2 separate regions of the Homo sapiens genome follow, and region 2 is linked to region 1. A link means that fine-mapping ties the variant in region 1 to the expression of a gene that starts in the linked region. Tissue or cell type: whole blood. Region 1 holds a variant in brackets; the other region holds the start of a gene. All regions are shown on one strand. Distances are between the middles of the regions.

Evidence for each region. PIP is the estimated chance that this variant, and not a neighbour inherited with it, causes the effect.
Region 2: DSE starts here. The variant in region 1 is fine-mapped to the expression of DSE in whole blood (INTERVAL, PIP above 0.99).

What each region holds. Positions count from the first base shown.
Region 1 is chr6:116,431,340-116,433,839 of GRCh38, forward strand. DSE (dermatan sulfate epimerase) reads left to right here. Exons shown (of 6, transcript NM_013352.4): 5 at 2,004-2,211. Among named protein-coding and RNA genes, the nearest start is that of CALHM6, 29 kb to the right of the region's middle. The variant G/A (reference allele first, on the strand shown) is at 1,493.
Region 2 is chr6:116,369,586-116,372,085 of GRCh38, forward strand. It overlaps DSE (dermatan sulfate epimerase), which reads left to right and starts at 1,362. Exons shown (of 6, transcript NM_013352.4): 1 at 1,362-1,536. It overlaps LOC100287467 (a long non-coding RNA gene), which reads right to left and starts at 2,134. Exons shown (of 1, transcript NR_148944.1): 1 at 1-2,134. RefSeq lists enhancers at 169-218, 1,733-2,233 and silencers at 1,149-1,678, 1,441-1,735.

The sequences.
Region 1 (2,500 bases):
AATTCAAGAGTTGCATATAGCCAGAACATTTTGGAGGCTAATGTGAGTATTTATGATTTAGGTATTATAAAGTTTGGAGGGTTATGGATTAAATACAATTTCTAGGCCCCTCAATACTTTTTTTTTATATATCCAAACTTGAGTAATATACGAACTCATCTTCATCATTGCAAGCAAAATATAAACATTTGTGATTACCTGTCAGTTTTCCTTTATATGTGATCCCTGATCAATCCTATTTTAATTTTTGGTTTTCAGTTTTTTCTTTCAAACTATACAGACATGATTCAAAATGAAAGATTACACCTACACATTTAAGTTGGAGCTTTAGTATTGTAATATTTTATTGAAGTAAATAGTATAGAAAAGTAAACAAAAAAAGTGCTGTAAAACTTGTAATTTCTTTATTGCTGTGTCATTTAGCCTTCTAAGAGAACTAGCTCTAAAAAAAATATATACATGATTTAATAATGTATTCATTTCCAGAGAACTTTGTAACCTTTTTTTATTTCTAAAACAGGACTAAGATGTTAGAACAAGTTATAAAGGAAAATTTTATCAGGATAGATTCCCCCCCTTCCCCAAGGAAATGCAATTTTTAGATGGTGATTCTAGACCTACAACAAATAATATAGTATTTAAATCTTTTGGCTCTGGTAGTATACATACAGATTAATAGAATCTCCATTATTGGACTAATTCAAAAATATTGCAGAGCATAAGAACCATTTTAAGATTTAGTTTAGACTTACATTCAAAAAAATACTGCTTTGTTGCTTTTTCTTAGACATGCAGGAGAGGCCTGTTTTGCAATTCATCCTAGTAAACAAAGGCTACCTGAAGCAAGGGACCTTTAAGAGGTTTCAGTGCTTTGTAATTTAAGCTGAGATCTAAAGGCTAACTACATCAGGAATTGTGTTTGCTGTGAGCTGTGTCTGTGGCTACTTCCTAAAGTGGAAAAGACAGTATGAACATGTCTAAGAGCAGCATTTATATGTTTGTGTTAATTAAACAAACTTTTATTGAACATCTGTGTGCCAGGCACTGTAGTAGGCAGAGGATTCAAAGAGGAATAAAACACATCTCCTGCTTTCAAGGAATTCACAGACTAGTAGAAGATTCAGAAAATATCATTTTAAAATAAGGTATACTTACAAGATCATTTACTAAATTATTAGGAACAAAAACATTAGCTGTAAATTACATAAATATAATTGTGGTAACATTTTAGAAGAGGTTCTATGTTAAAGCAATCTGTTTTCAACTTCATTTCTCTCTTTTTTTTTTTTTCTACAGTTGATACTCTAGTAGCAATTTTTTTGTCTGGCTGAGTTTTCTATCTTGCTGCTTCTTTTTTCATGAACACGTGGAGCATATCCAGTCTTACCTGCTTTTATTTTTCTTCCCTATTCCAAAAATGATATATGGCTTTATGATCCTTGCATTTTCTGTCGTTTAACTTCCAGCAGTACATACTGGCAGGAGCTACTCC[G/A]GGAATTAAATTTTCTTCCTGTAGAAACTCAGTCTCTCCCCTGAACTTCGTATATAGTATAACTTACACTTTATTGAAGCCAAACTGAAGCATGTTATTTTATTATCTTGGCCTAGAATGCATGTTGAGTTGTGGGAGAGCTAGTGTTCATTCCAGGTTCAGAAACCCAAACTGCACAAGAGGATGTCCCATGTATATATGCAAATATAATCACGTATAGCATGAACATTGGAAAATGAGGAAGGCAGGGAATAGGTGTAGCACTAATGTTACCAAGGACAGGTTACCACATAATAAATACAAGCTTGCACACAACATATGTGGAAGACCTTTTGAGGGATTCTGACTAACTGGTCTGGAATAAAATGTGAGGATTGTGATTTTTCTTTTATTTTATCCCTTCCATTACACAATTCTAATTTGCAACTAGATTTGAAAAGTCATTGTTTAGACCTATATAGGAGTGTGAAGTTTTCAAAGTATCTTAATTCTTTCCAACTTATTTCCCTAGGGTTTCAAAGGACTGTGGCTATTGCGGACTCAAATTACAACTGGTTTTATGGTCCAGAAAGCCAATTAGTGTTCCTTGATAAATTTGTCATGCGTAATGGCAGTGGTAACTGGCTAGCTGACCAAATCAGAAGGAACCGTGTGGTGGAAGGTCCAGGAACACCATCCAAAGGGCAGCGCTGGTGCACTCTGCACACAGAATTTCTCTGGTATGACACATTGGGCTAGCTTTAAAGAGAAATGGTACCCAAGGGTACTATTCATGCTATGCACTTGTTTTTTTGCATTTAAAAAGAAAAACTAAAACACTTTTTAAATCTTTTCTCCATGCCACCTGAGTATATGAAGTTTCAATTCAACTCATATCACTGTTTTTGAAACTCTTAGAAACTTTTCTTTTTTAAAAAAAAATTTCAACTTTTAGATACAGGGGTACATGTGCAGTATACCCAGGTAGTGAGCATAGTACCTAATAGGTAGTGTTAGAAACATTTCTTT
Region 2 (2,500 bases), 62 kb before region 1:
TTTGGATTTGAACCAAAGATTAGTTCCAGTTTCCAGAGCCCTCTTCTCTCCTCGACAGGCCTTCCCTAAAGCATCAAGAAGTTTATGCAAATTAGTGGTTCACCTGAGTGAACATTTAAAAAATTTAATAGTACCACTTCCTCTTGACCTGTTTGTAAGGAGTTCCTCTTAAATGCAATTTCTGAAAAAGAGAAGCATAAACTGAGACATCCACATTTTTTCCTTATTTGGCCAAATAGAAGTGAGAACCTCTGAGGATAGAGGAATTGGATGGAGGTGCCCTTCAGAACTCATGGAGAAAAGCACTGCTCCCAGTAAAATATCTCTCATTCTAATGAATGGGTAAGTATCCTACAAATCTTTCACTTCTGTACAATCTAGGTCTGGTAGGTTACTTGCACACACTGGGTGGAGGTGGAAGGGGCAAAGTATTCCTGAGGTGATGGCCCTGATCCTACCTCACATCTCCTTGGGGCCTGGTTGGACCTGGCTGAGCGTGTTTGAGCAGTGGCTGATTTTTGGAAAACAGGAGGACTCTTCTCCAGGAGGCTGTGACTACCAAGGTTGCAAATGCTCCACCTGAACTTGGGTGCATGAGGGATCTCTCTCTCTCACACACACACACCCCCCCACCGCGTAAGATAAATTTCTGTTTGTGAGCTGCCTACATTAAATGCTTTGCTCCTGACCTTCTGTGATTAAAATCTGTTCCGTTTGCAGGGTTCGGTGCGCTTGGATTTAGTGTATTTTGTTGGTACAGTAAAAAAGAGAACTGCTTCTCTATAGGTGACCCCCGCCCCAAAGTCCCCCCTCCCACTAACTTCTCTTTGAGAAGAGAGTAAAACCGAATTCGAGAGAAAAGAGGCAGTAACTATTCGGGAGGAGGCAGACTGGAGTGGGCACCAGTCCCGGTAGTAAGAGTCTTAACGTCTTCCTCGCTTTCCTCTCGCAGAGTAGTATGGAAGCATCAGCTCCTCCCCCTGGGCCTCCAAAAGTTACCTTTCCTTTGGGTGTGATTCTCGAACCCGAAGCGTTTGAGTCCTAAGAAACTAGAACAAGTTAGAGCCAAAGAGGCCTGGCGGGCGGGGGTGCGGGTGGAGTCCGGGCCGGGTGGCGTGGAAGGCCGAGCACAGCTGCGAGCGGCGAGTCCCGGGAGAGGAGGAGCGGGAGAAAGCGGGGCGGGCCTGCGGTCGGGGTTCGGCCGGGGGAGGGGGTCCCCGTTTCCCTCTCCTCATCCTCGTCTCCTCTGGCTCTGGTGACGTTGCGGTTTCCTCCCCCCTCCAGCGGAGCCTCAGCGCCCGCCGCGTCCCTCCCTCCGCCCCTTTCGCCCACACCTACCCGCCCCCGCCGGCCCGGCTCTCAGTAGCGTCGCCCGAGGCTGCAGCAGCGCATCCCGGGGCATGGCGCGGCGGGGGCGCGGAGGGCTCGGTTCGGAGGGGGCCGGGAGCCCGGGCGCCCTGGAGTGAGGAGGACCGGGAGCTGGCTCTGGAGGCTGCGGAGGCGACGCCGGAGAGAACGAAGCCTCGGCTGGGAGCGGTAAGTGGAGGGGCGCGCAAGGGACGAGCTGGGGCGCGCGGCGCAACTTTCTTCGGGAGTTTCGGGCGGGTAGCCTTCGGGGCTGTCCCGGCGCGGGCGGGAGACGGAGAGCCACGTCCCCGGCTGAGAGCGGAGCGCCGCGGGTTGCGCGCCCGGGCCCGGCTCGGCTGGACTCCGAGAGAGCGCCTGACGCGTGAAGCCTGAGCCACGGGCTTCCCCGGCGGCGGAGCAGCCTCGAGGGGCAGCTTTTCGATCCTCCCCACCCCCTTGAACGCCGAGCACCGAGCCGGGAACACGATGAGAACCTGGAGATCGCATTCCGTGCGTCGGATCTGGCCGGCCCAGCCGCGATTTCCTCGACGGTCCTTGGGGCCTCGGCTTCACTCTGCGGGGTTGGGTGGCACACCCTCGCGTCCTCCTTTCCCTCCGTACCCCAGCCATTTGGGGGCAGGGGAGGTGGCGGCGGCTTGTGTGCAGATCCTGGCGCTGGCAACCCTACTTTGCGGCTGCAGAAGCCGAGGAAGAGCTCCCCAAGCCTCTCCCAGACGCTGGATTCCAGCGCTCCTGGGCTCCGCCGGCACTCGGAGAAATTGTTAGTAAACCTCATCCCCGAGGCAGTCCCGGGGAGGGGAGGAGGCGGGGGCTTGACTCACAGACTGGGAAGCTCTGAAAGCGATGCCACATGGGCTCAAGATCTGTCGGGGCTGGAATCTGAGCTAAGTTTGTGACCTGAGAACTTTTTCGTTTATATCGCTCCTTTAAAGCAGCAGCCTCCTCTTAAGCCGGCTGGCATTCAGATGGAAACCGAAGCCTTTGGTTAAAATCAGGAGGTGAACCTCACTTACCTGAAATTCTTTAGGTCAGGCAATGACGCTTTTAGTTCTAGGAATCTTCGTGTAATAAAGTTCTTTTTAAAAATTTTTTCGTTGGTCATGGTTTAGAAAGTCATGGTTTAGCACTGTTA